2 separate regions of the Homo sapiens genome follow, and region 1 is linked to region 2. Evidence: fine-mapped expression QTL. Tissue or cell type: tibial nerve. Region 2 holds a variant in brackets; the other region holds the start of a gene. All regions are shown on one strand. Distances are between the middles of the regions.

Region 1 (5,922 bases), 73 kb after region 2:
TCCACATTTCCGGTGCCCGGTGTCCACATTTCCGGTGTCCCGTGTCCGCATTTCCGGCGTCTCGCATGTGACACTACTTCACGCCTGTTCAGCCCCGGCATGGATGGGATTGGCGGGCATCCCCTGCAGAGCTCTTCCTGAGTCCTGTCTGTTGCAGCGCTGGGGCCCATCCCTGGTCACCGGGCAGCAGAGGCAGCGTTCTCAGGCAGAATCGCAGGGCGCCAAGCCTGTGACGGAGGGTGCAGGACGGTTGCCGTGCGCTCTGCTCTCAGACTCTCCCGAGGACCCTCACTTGGGGCTCCAAGAGGAAACCTCACAGCAGGGCACAGCTGGGGCAGCTGGATCTGCAGGAGGCCATTTTGCGATTCTTCATTTGCATGTTTCAAGTCAAATGAGTATCCAGCTTACTAATCCTGAGTTAATCCTGAGTTACTGTAAGACTGACTTCCTTATTGATATGGTTTGGCTGTGTCCCCACCCAAATCGCATCTTGAATTGTAGTTCTCATAATCTTCCTGTGCTGTGAGAGTGAGCCGGTGGGAGGTGACTGAATCACGGGGGTGGTTCCCCCATCCAGTTCTCATGATAGTGAGAGAGTTCTCATGAGATCTGATGGTTTTATAAGGCACTTCCCCCTTCGCTGGGCACTCATTCTCTCTCCTGCCACCCTGTGAAGAGGTGCCTTCTGCCATGACTGTAAGTTTCCTGAGGCCTCCCCAGCCATGTGGAACTGTGAGTCAATTAAACCTCTTTCCTTTATAAATTACCAAGTCTTGGGTATGTCTTTATTAGCAGCGTGAGAACAGACTAATATGATTATTGTCTGCTTAACTTGGTGAGGGGCAGGCCCCACAATGACGGTAACACAGATCTTCAGTGAGGGTCTTCCCAGCCCATCCCTTTCGAATAACTGGGCTTGACACATATTTGGTTGAATACAGGGTTCCTGTCTAACTGCAGACACAGGTGTGCACACACTCCAATAGAGCGTTCCCTGTCTAACTACAGATACACACGAGTATACACCCCAATAGAGGGTTCCTGTCCAACTGTAGATACGGATGCGTGCACACCCCAACAGAGGGTTCCTGTCCAACTGCAGACACAGATGCATGCACACCCCAACAGAGGGTTCCTCTCCTACTGCAGACTCAGATGCATGCACACCCCAACAGAGGGTTGCTGTCCTACTGCAGACAGAGATGTGTGCACACACCAACAGAGGGTTCCTCTCCTACTGCAGACACAGATGCATGCACATCTGATAGAGGGTTCCTCTCCTACTGCAGACACAGATGTGTGCACACCTCAATAGGGGGTTTCTGTCCAACTGCAGACACAGATGTGCACACACTCCGATGGGGGGGGGTTCTTGTCTAACTGCAGACATAGACGACTGCAAACCCCAATGAGGGGTTCCTGTCCAACTGCAGACACAGATGTGCACACACCCTGTGGGGGGGTTCCTGTCTAACTGCAGACATAGATGACTGCACAACCCAGTGAGGGGTTCCTGTCCAACTGCAGACACAGATGTGCACACACCCTGTGGGGGGGTTCCTGTCTAACTGCAGACATAGATGACTGCACAACCCAGTGAGGGGTTCCTGTCCAACTGCAGACACAGATGTGCGCACACCCCGATAGGAAGTGGCTCTGTGGTTGCCAACTTGCCAGGCCCAGCAGGGGCCACAGGAGTTGCAGAGGCACTTCAGGGAGCTCCGTCAAAAGCAGATGAGCACGATTCACCTGTTCAGAACAGGCGGTTCACTATGTTCTAGCTGCATGATCCCTCAGTTAAAATCTTACCGTGAAGTTCCGTGCAAGAAACCTAAAAGTTCCAGCTCTTATGGGGTAGGGGGCCAAAGCCCCAGCATCTTCCCCACAACAGGTCCTCTTATGACCCCTCCCCCAGCCCGAGGCACTGCTGGGGACCCCAGGAAACTACAGGACATCCCCCATTAGCTCAACTCCAGCTTCTCGTTGCTGGGTGGGGACACAGAGTCTTGGGGAAGATTTTGCCACAAACATAGATGTGGGCGTTTACGTAAACACAGAACTCTATCCCGAAGCAGACAAGAGACTCCCAGATTCCCAGGGGACTTGAACCAGGATATTACTAGCAAGTCATACTCCATTCCAGGTAGCAATGATACATTAGCTATGCAGAAAGTCATCGTTCTTCAACAAACCACTCTCATTTTAATTGCCACATTTTCATTATCCACATTAATCATTAAAATGAAAGTACCATCTCAACTCCTGTCGCCATGAACTCAACTAAAACAGGTAGACAAAATGGGGGAAAGGGAAAAGAAAAGGAAATAGAGAAGCATAGAGATGGTGACGTCTGAACACAAGACAGGAGCTGCTCCTTGGAAACCGGCTTCCTGGCGCTCTTCCCTCAGCGCTCCCTCCCGGGAAGGATGTGCTGAACCATAAACTTATTTCTCACAGCAACGTCTATCAGGGATGTTTCCTTCACAGGCCCAGTGAAAGGGCTGGCCCTTGACACCTCACAGACACCTGGCCTAAGCAGAGTGAGGCGGTCCAGGGACTTTCCATACACAGGCTGTGTCCTGAGGCTCTGCTCACCCCATACCCCTGCTCACCCCCACGGCCCTGCTCACCCCCACGGCTCTGCTCACCCTCACAGCCCTGCTCACCCCCACGGCTCTGCTCACCCTCACGGCCCTGCTCACCCCCACAGCCTTGCTCACCCCCACGGCCACCCAGGGCCCTGCTCACCCCCATGGCTCTGCTCACCCCCACAGCCCTGCTCACCCCTATGGCCACCCAGGGCCCTCCTCACCCCCATGGCTCTGTTTACTCCCAAGGCCATCCAGGGCCCTGCTCACCCCCACGGCCACCCAGGGCCCTGCTCACCCCCACGGCCACCCGGAGCCCTGCTCACCCCCACAGCTCTGTTTACCCCCACGGCCACCCAGGGCCCTGCTCACCCCCACGGCCAGCCGCAGTTGCTCCCGGCTGGGCAGCAGCACGAGGACATCCCTGTGTTCCGAGGCCATCGCGTCCATTCCCAGGGTCGGCTCCTGCTGACTGCATGCAGGCCTCTCAGGACTGGGTTCCATACATCGCGCCCCTGAAGGAGGGAACGTGTCAGGGTTTGTCCGGGCGGGGTCTATGCCCCTCCCTCTCGGGGGCACCGCCATGCTGTCGTTACTCGGCCCTCCCCCGCCATGGGTCGCAGGTGGGTGCTCAGCACCTCCCAGATCACAGCTGTGCTTTCCGGGACCCGCCCTTGCCGAGCTTCTCACTGGGAAGGGAATTGAGAGGGAAGCCTGGGCTGGGAATCCAGCATGGCCAAGCCAGGACAAGGGTCAGAGCTGCAAATAGCTGGGTGTGTGGAGGGCGCCAGGAATGCAAATAAACAACCTCAGGCTGGGCACCCGCCATGCAGCACTCCCATGCAGGGTAGCTCAGCAGCCAGCCTCGGTGTGGGCCCCGTGAGAACCAGGCTGGGGGAGACAGGACCCAACTCCTCCACCTGACAACCCCTATCTCCTCAGGGTGCCTGCTCCTTCTTCTATAATGTGGAGAGGGCTATGCAAACCCCATGGGCACAGATGCCAGAGCCAGGGCTGCTGGGGAAGATGGAGCAGCAGCAGGGCAGGACGAGGAGGGCGGGAGGAAGGCAGCCTGGGTGGGCACCCTGCCCCACACACCTCCTGTGGCATCTGTTATCGACCTCAGGAAGCAGCACAGCTGCCGTTCCTGGACAGGTTCTGCCAGGAGGGACCCTGGCTCCCTTTAGGGGCTGGAAACTGAGGACACTTCCTTCCTTGTCCAGGGCCAGCAAATCCCTTCCTGCCTGCAGCAGCTGGAAGGCCAGGAAGGGGGTCCTGGCTTGCGTGGACAGCAGCCGGGTGCATCAGCACGAGGGGTGGGGACATCTCCCGCAGGGCCTGGAACCCCTGAGGCCGCTCAGCAGAGATGAGCAACGCCTTCGAGCTCTTTGGCACAGTGTTAGGTGGGGAAGGGACCCCAGGATCCTGCCTGGCCCTGGGACCACCCAGACCTTTGGGCGCTGCAGGTCAGGAGAGGCAGTTCCCACGGGCCTGGGCTGTGGAATTCTGTCCTCAGCCGTGAGCTCCATCAGTTTCCTGCCATGGAGTCTGGGATGCTCTGGGACCTTCCTCTAGTAAGGGGTCTGGACCTCCGGACGGGCCGTTGTTCATCTTAGGAAATTCGCACTCCAGCCGCCTTAAGGCCTGGCCCGGTGGGTTTAGGAAATTCGCACTCCAGCCGCCCTAAGGCCCGGCCCGGTGGGTTGAGAAGATTTAGGAGGCTTAGGCCTCACCTCCCCCGGACCCTGGACTGACACTGGCTCCCTCCCTCCCTCCCTCCGCTCAGATCCAGACCCTTCCCAGACCCTCGAGGCCACACATGTGTGCCCAAGACAGCAGTGGCGGTCTCTTTTCTCTCCACAGCAAACGTAGAGCTGTTCACTATGGAAGATGTGGGGATCCCTTTAGCTGAGAGCACAAAAAGTTTTAAAAATGGCAAAAAAACCACAAAAAAAAACAGCCCCAGAGAGCAGAGGCTGGATCCTCATGGCCCTGTGCCACTGGCGCCTGAGCAGCTCGTCCCTGTGCCGGGTGCCCTCAGCCGCTGCCTGGAGTCACAGTGCCGGCGTATCAGGAAGGGCGGCAGCAGCTGCACCTCTCAGGATGCCTGGGCGCAGGACAGTGGCAGAGGGCAGGCAGGGGCCAGGGTTGGGGGGTGGCAGAACACCACCGGCACACACAGCACAGAGGGGACAACAGGCACCAGGACCCCTCGGTGGGGAGAGCCGGGGACACGGTGGGGAGTTGTGCTGGGTGCACTAATGATCAAAGCGATGGTTCCCCACGTGTGTGCAGGTGCTGGTGTGTGCGGGCGCTGGTTTGTGCGGGCGCTGGTGTGTGTGGGCGCTGGTGTGTGCGGGTGCTGGTGTGTGTGGGCGCTGGTGTGTGTGGGCGCTGGTGTGTACAGGTGACCGTGGGCCAATGAGCTCCAAACATCATTAGTGAGAAGAAAAGGAAAAGGAATGGAAACTCCACATTTGTATTGATAAACACAATAAATGGATTCTTGTCAAAGCAGGACGTCCCTGGCCCCAGCTCCTTCCTTCCCACCCAGAGTCTCAGGGCCACACCGTTGAGGTTCAGACCTCCAGTGAAGGCCGCCGTCCATCTGAGTGCCAGGGAGAGCTGGGCTTGGGAAGCCCCCGTTGTATTCCTGGGAGAGCGCGGCTTTTTCCTGAAAACGTGCTGAGGCTCCAAGGCAAGGGTGGTCGCCATGAGTACCTCCCGCCAGGGCACTGAGGGGACACCAGAACCTCTGTCCTCAGCTCATCAAGAAGACAACTTTGCACCCTGAGAAGGCAGAGGCGTGACCGGGCCCCAACACTGACCCCACCTCTGAATGTCTTGTCTTCTCGACTGGCCTGTTCGTGATGGAAGAGGCTGGCCTGCCACGTTCGTGATGTCAGGGCCGGGCAGTGGACGGGCAGAGGCCGCGAGGAAGAGGAGACCACCGCCCAGATCTCCTCATGGCTGAGCCCTGGAGTCCTCCTCGGCCCAACTCTCTCTTCTTCTGGACGGCTGGTTTCCATCCTCTATCATGAGATAGATAGAGGCCTGCTGAGAACATTCTAGAACTCAAGCTTCGGAGCTCTAGGTCCACAAAGCACAGGTTTTGGAAAACAATGTGGGAATGCTGTTCCGTGGTGAGAAGGAAGGCAGAACTGACACAGGCACAGGACTAAACATCCCACTGCAAGGGAGAAGCTGGATGCAAAAGGCCGGGCTCCATTCCGAGACATCCAGCAAAGGCAGCATCTTCGGGGCCAGGGAGCTGGCAGCAGGGACTGCAGAGGGGCGAGGTGTCCTCTGGGGGTGGTCGGATGGCAGTGATGGC
Region 2 (7,177 bases):
GTCTTCTAGATCAGTGGTCCCCAACCTTTTTGGCATCAGGGACCAGCTTCCTGGAAGACCAGGTTTCCACGAACTGGCGGGCCGGGGCAGGGATGGTTTCAGGATGACTCAACTGCATTTCATTTATTGTGCACTTTATTTCTATTATTATTACACTGTAATATACAACAAAATAATAATACAACTCACCACAATGTAAAATCAGTAGGAGCCTTGAGCTTATTTTCCTGTAACTAGAGGGTCCTATCTAGCAGTGATGGAGACAGTGACAGGTCATCAGGCATCAGAGTCTCATAAGGAGTGTGCAACCTGCATCCCTCACATGCACAGCTCACAGTAGGGTTTGTGCTCCCAAGAGAATCTAATGCTGCTGCTGGTCTGACAGGAGGTGGAGCTCAGGCAGTGATGCCAGTGATAGGGAGCGGCTGTAATTCAGAGAAGCTTTGCTCACTTGCGCACCGCTCACCTCCTGCTGTGCAGCCTGGTTTCTAACAGGCCTCCATGGCCAGGGATTTGGGACCCTTGTTCTGTATCACCACCGCTCTAAACTGCGCATGAAGGAGATATTTAAGCGTTCTTACTGGAGTATGGATGACTCTCCCATGCAATGCAGACAGGGAAGATGAAAACAAGAAATAAAGAACAGGGGTATTGGAGTAAAAAAATCAAGAGAAGACAAAAGGGGGTGGGGAAGAGAAGAAAATAATACATAAAAAGTAAAGAGTAAAAAAAATAAAAAGCATAAGGTCCAAAAGGACGAGTGGAGTTTTAGAAAAGGATGGAAGGGTGGATCCATGCACACAGGAAGAGGAGGAAGAGGAGCCAAGCCAGTGTCCTGGGAGACCAGGACAGAGACAGAGATGATGGCAGAGAAGCAGAGGGGTGTTTTAGAGTGACCAGGACAGAGACAGAGATGATGGCGAAGAAACACAAGGGTGTTTTAGAGGCTGAATGTTAGGAATTCAGAAAGCAATTTCTTCATGATGTGTATTTTCAATGTTGTTTCATTCCCTCAGCTCCATCTCTAGAGAAGCGGCCCATGCTGTTGATGACCTGAGTCTACAAGTTTCCTCACAAATTGTATTCAGAGAGCAGCTTCCTGCTTGGTGGGTGTCCGTAGTCCCCACAGATCCCTACAATGGAGAGCAACTCAGAGACTGAATAAATAGAAAATAATTTATTTTAGGCTTTCTTAGTTAAGAAGAGTTGTTTTTGTTCCTTGATTTCTATTGGAACATGAAATTAAGCATTTGACATGCTTTCCTTGTGGGAAACCAGCTCCTGACCCGTAGTTCTATGTGAGGAAGTTACTTCACTTCCATTTATTTTCCAGCCCAAATGATCAATCAGTGCAAATATGAGCAAGTTCTAAAATTTAGAGCACCAGGAAAAGAGATATAAATATAAAATCAGTGATATCATGGGTGAACTTTGTGATTCTAAACTGGAATCAAGCATGATTTTGTTTCTCCTGAAAGCCTCCTTGCTTTTTAGTTTTATCCACGAAAAGGCCGAGAAGTCAGAAGGAGCAGCCCAACACCCCAGGGGTGTCTGAGTACCAAGCCCACTGCAGGAGAAAAGCTCATTTGACACCTCGCATCTGGGCCAGGAAAGGAAGTGGGTGGGAGGAGCCTGGGGCACTTGGGGAGCTGAACAGCAAGGGAGGCCTCAGAACAGAACGGGGGCTGTCCCAGCACATGGAGCCCACGGCAGGCACTCCCTCAACGCGGGATAGAAGCCTGGGGATTAAGGAGGGACTAAAGCAGATTGAAATATATAATTATATGTACAATCTTGAGTTCATAATAATGAGTTTTTAAAAAGACCTCACATTAATTTTTTGGGTGCTAGAACATCAACTCATTATTCCAAAAAGTGATAGAAAGAGAAAAGGGTTGTGATGTCCTTCCTGTAGGAAACATACTCAGGGCAGATGCATGGTTTTTGAGGGAACAGAAGATTCTAGGTAATAAACTCAACAAATGATAAAACTGGAAAACCATCATTTGAAACCCCCAATGAAATGGTGACTCTAGGCCCTCAGAGGATGCTGGTCAGGGGTTGATGGGATCGTCACGATGAGGGTTCAGGGTTGCCTCAAACCCTCTAAGCACTTTCTCCTGAGTGGACGCTGCTCAGGGGTTGATAGGATCTTCACGACGAGGGTTCAGGGTTGCCTCAAACCCTCTAAGCACTCGCAGCTTCCCTGAAGTTGGGATGCAGAGACATGATGTCCCGAGGTGGTGCAGCAGGTGGGACACAGTGGGACTGATGAAGCACTTTTGCTTCAAAATCAAACCAGCATCTAATCAAGTCTTGGGGACAGTCATTTTAAAGGAGAGAAAACCATCTGCCAAGCCAGAATGCGGACATTTCACAGAACAGACTGCCTGGCTTCTCTAGTAATAACTTTTGTTTTTAAAGGCAGGAGGACACAGTAGAATGAGACGTGTCAGCCTCAGTGTGTCCTGGTTTGGAGCCTGGTGTGCACGAGCCACCTGTCACAGGCGAGCTTGGCGTGCACGAGCCGACTGTCACAGGCAAGCCTGGCATGCACGAGCTGACTGTCACAGGCATTGTTGGGACAGTGGGGGAAGTCCGAATGTGTCCTGGGTATATAGGGGGGCAAACCTTCTCCTCTATCCTCCTAGGGTCCCTGGTGGAGCCTGAGAATGGAATTGGCCTAAGGCAGGTTGACGGGGAAGAGCATCGGATTTGTTGAATGTGGGGTCTACCTGACACAGAGCCCCCCGGAAAATGAAGAGTTGAGGAGTGGCACAGCCTGCACGCTGCCCTGCGGGGTTGGGCAGAGGCCACTGTGGACAAGCAACCAAATGAGATGGGAGACAGAGGGAAGGCGAGGGCTGTGCTAACAGGTCTGTCTGTGCAGAGCTGCTCAGCTTCGACCCTGTATTAGCCAGGGATCTCTAGAGGGACAGAACGAATGGAATAGATACATATGTAGAGGAGAGTTTATTAGGTATTAACTCACACGATCACAAGGTCCCACAACAGCCATCTGCACGCTGAGGAGCAAGGAGAGCCAGTCCGAGATCCAAAGCTGAAGAACTTGGAGTCCGATGTTCGAGGGTAGGAAGCATCCAGCACGGGAGAAGGATGTAGGCTGGGAGGCTAGGCCAGTCTCTCTCTTCACATTTTTCTGCCTGCTTTATATTTGCTGGCGGCTGATTAGACGGTGCCCACCCAGATTAAGGGCGGGTCTGCCTTTCTCACCCCACTGACTCCAATGTTAATTTCCTTTGGCAACAGCCTCACAGCCACACCCAAGATCAATACTTTGTATCCTTTAATCCGCTGATCAAGTTGACGCTCGGTATTAACCATCACAGACCCCATCTACTGACGAGAACATGCTTTGTTCCTGGCCCAGCAAGGGCGGCTCTCATGGGAGGGTCAGGTCCTGCCTTCAGTGCAGGAGGAAGAGGGGAAGCTGGAGTGCTCTGCATGAGCCTCCTGCTTCTCAGGAACCTTTAAGTAAAGATAATCCTGATGCCAAAGTGGCATATTTTGGGGTGACATGTTCTGCCACTCTCCATGTGACATTAATTTTGTAAAGTGTGATGAAT[G/T]GCATGGTGATTGTATTCTATTTCTTTTTTTTTTTTTTAGCGATGGGGGGGTCTCACTATGTTGCCCAGGCTAGTCTTGAACTCCTGGCTTATGTGATCCTCCTGCTTTGGCCTCCCAAAGTGCTAGGATTGTAGGCGTGAGCCACCACACCGGGCAAATTGTGCTTTAAAAGTGTTCTTATCATTTAAAAATGCAGCCTGTAATACTCAGCAATACAACGATCTGTTGTCTGGTTTTGAATGTACAGTATGCTGAGGAAAGGGAGGTGGGTTTTGCAGGAGTGTCTGTGAAACAAGACTGGCCGGATATTCCACACTTGTGGCACCGGGCGATTGCACCTGAGGACGTCTTGTGCTGTTTCCCCCATTTCTGTGTACGTTACAAAGTCCCCAGTGAGAACAGTTAAAAAAATGCTGGGCCTCTCCTTCATTCAGCTTATTATGGTGATCACAAGATGAATTTAGAAAGCACATGAAATGCTAAACACTTCACTAACATTGATAATTTTGAATTCAGGAAAATCTCAGGTCATGTAGGACACAATGGCCATTTTGAAGATGATTTTGTGTCACGTTGATTACCATATGCGGTTCTACAAGGCCCGTCACCTGAATCAGTCTGATGATGGTTACGTATTGTAAACTTTAGAAACTCTTTTTCAAAAGGTAGTTTTAGTTAACGGACTGATAGCCTTATACTTTTTAAAAAGGCCAAGAAAATTGTTATAGCCATACTTTAAAATTGCTCTTACTATGTCCCCAGAAAGAAAAACTTTTACAATTCTTTATTTTAAAGTATTATTGATTGATTGATTGATTCAGCTTTATTTAGGTAAAATCGACAAAAATTGTATACATTCGACATCTACAACATGATAATTTAATATACAGATGTATATGATTACCATCCATCTTTGGATGACACATGTGGTAATCAGTTTTACAACTGAGCATGGTGGCTCACACTTGTAATCCTAGCACTTTGGGAGGCCAAGGCAGATGGATCACCTGAGGCCAGGAGTTCGACACCAGCCTGGCCAACATGGTGAAACCCTGTCTCTACTAAAAATACAAAAAATTAGCTGGGCGTGGTGGTGGGCGCCTGTAGTCCCAGCTACTTGGGAGGCTGAGGTAGGAGATCGCTTGAATCCGGGAGGCAGAGGCTGCAGTGAGCTGAGATTGAATCATTGCACTCCAGCCTGGGCAACAAGAATGAGACTCCATCTCAAAACAAAAACAAAAACAAACACAAAACCATACAATCAGTAAAATGATTACCACAGTCAATGGTAATGACTACCAGGATGGCTAAAGAGTAGAAAGGGGGATTTTATCAGTGATATCAGTTTGCAAACTGAGAAGAGACAGTCTCCAGCTCTCTCTGTTAAAAGGTGAACTCCAGGACACACAGTTTGTGCACAGTCTGTATAAGCTGGCCGAAAATAGCTGGAGGTCTGCAGCTGCTTCTCAGGAAAGAATTGTGCAAGGCTGATCCTCTGCCTAATCAGGGTTGCGGTGGTCTGGGTTGTGAATCAGAGTTAGGGATTTTCCTGATGGCTCCCGTTGTTAGGGAGTTTAGCAAGAGTGTGGTTTTTCTTGTAGCCACAGGAATTTAGGAAGCTGTCAGGCAGCCAAGCCCTGAACCTCTGACTCATAGGTACCTTTTATTTCCTTAATCTTAGGATCCATCTTAGTTGATAAAGAAGCATCTATTGGTCTCTCAGATCACATTTCCCTGTTGTGGTCAGTCATAGCTTGGATTTCTGTGGGCCCACAGGCCCTACTGCATCACTCTTATCTTAAATGGCCTGAGAGAGAACTTCATGGATTTGTTGTTCTTTCCTTTAATAGAACATTCTCTTTAGTTTACTTTATGGATTTGGCCTACCTTATGAAGGAATACTGTATGGATTTGGCCTACCTTATGAAAGAATTTCTTCCTTGAAGCCAAAAGAGATTCCCATAAAACCTTTTCCTGAAGCATTTCCTCTGTGTTTTCTTCCAGTAGTTTAATCACTTTGTGTCTCACATTTAGGCCTTTGATCCATTTTGAGTTGATTTCTGTATAGTGTAAGAGGTGGGGGTCTAGTTTCATTCTTCTGTATATGGATTTCCAGTTTTCCTAGTACCATTTATTGAAGAGACCATCCTTTCCTCAATGAGTGTTCTTGACATCTTTGTTAAAAAATCAGTTGACTATAGATATGTTGGTTAATTTCTGGGTTCTCTATTCTGTTCCACTGGTCTATGTGTTTGTTTCTATGCCAGTACCATGCTATTTTGGTTACTATAGCTTTGTAATATATTTTGAGAGCAGGTAGTGTGATTCCTCCAGCTTTGTTCTTTTTTCTCAGCATTTCTTTGGCCTTTTGGAATCTTTTGTGGTTCCATACAAATTTTACAATTTTTTCAATTTCTGTGAAAAATGTCATTGGTATTTTGATAAGGATTGCATTGAATCTCTAGATTGCTTTGGGTTGTATTGTCATTTTAACAATTTTAATTCTTCCAATTCTTGAGCATGAGATGTCTTTCCATTTGTTTGCATCCTCTTCAATTTCTTTCATTAGTGTTTTCTAATTACCCTTTTAGAGGTTTCTCACCTCCTTGGTTAAATTTATTCCTAGGTATTTTAAATTTTTTGCAGCTATTGTATATAAATGGGAGTGCCTTTTAAATTTATTTTTCATTTAGTTCATTGCTCATATATAGAAACAATACTGATTTTTTCATATTAATTTTGTATCCTGCAACTTTACCGAAGTTGTCGATCAGTTCTAAGAGATTTTTGGTAGAGTCTTTAGGATTTTCTATATATCAGATCATGTTATCTTCAAGCAGGAACAATTTGACTTCCTTCTGTATGATTTGGATGCTCTTTATTTCTTTCTTTTGCCTAATTGCTATGACTAGGACTTCCAATACCATATTGATAAGAGTGGTGAGACTTGGCATCCTTGTCTTATTCCAGTCCTTAAAGAAAAAGCTGAAAGATGTTAGGATGTTAGCTGTGGGTTTGTTATATATTGTCTTTATTATATTGAGGTTGTTTTTTTCTATACCTAATTTATTAAGAGTTGTTTTTTTTTATCATGAAAGGATGTTGAATATTTTGAAAAGCTTTTTCTGCATCTTTGGAGATGATCACATGATTTTTGTCCTTCATTCTGTAGATGTGACCCAATTTGTTTAGTGATTTGCATATTTTGAACTGTCCTCACATTTTGGGATAAATCCCACTTCATCATGGTGTATTATCTTTTTGATGTGCTGTTCAATGCAGTTTGCTAGTACTTTGCTGAGAATTTTTGTAACTATGTTCATCAGGAATGTTGGCCTATAGTTTTTTGTTATTGTTTTGTCATTGTCTGGTTTTGGTATCCCGGTTATGCTGGCCTTGTAGAATGAGTTAGCAAGAATTCCCCCTGCTTCAGTTTTTTTTGCAATAGTTTCAGAAGAATTCGTATTAATTATTCTTTAAAGGTTTGGTCGAATTTAGTAGTGAAGCCTTCTGGTCCTAGACTTTTCTTCATTAGAAGACTTTATTACTGACTTGGTCTCATTACTTGTTATTGGTCTGTTCAGATTTT

Evidence for each region. PIP is the estimated chance that this variant, and not a neighbour inherited with it, causes the effect.
Region 1: FRMD1 starts here. The variant in region 2 is fine-mapped to the expression of FRMD1 in tibial nerve (GTEx, PIP 0.91).

Annotation. Positions count from the first base shown.
Region 1 is chr6:168,075,922-168,081,843 of GRCh38, forward strand. It overlaps FRMD1 (FERM domain containing 1), which reads right to left and starts at 3,291. Exons shown (of 11, transcript NM_024919.6): 1 at 2,961-3,291. The coding sequence starts at 3,173. RefSeq lists an enhancer at 2,282-3,003.
Region 2 is chr6:168,002,598-168,009,774 of GRCh38, forward strand. It overlaps KIF25 (kinesin family member 25), which reads left to right. Exons shown (of 13, transcript NM_030615.4): 3 at 1-62; 4 at 1,017-1,106. Among named protein-coding and RNA genes, the nearest start is that of KIF25, 8.5 kb to the left of the region's middle. RefSeq lists an enhancer at 4,527-5,726. The variant G/T (reference allele first, on the strand shown) is at 3,588.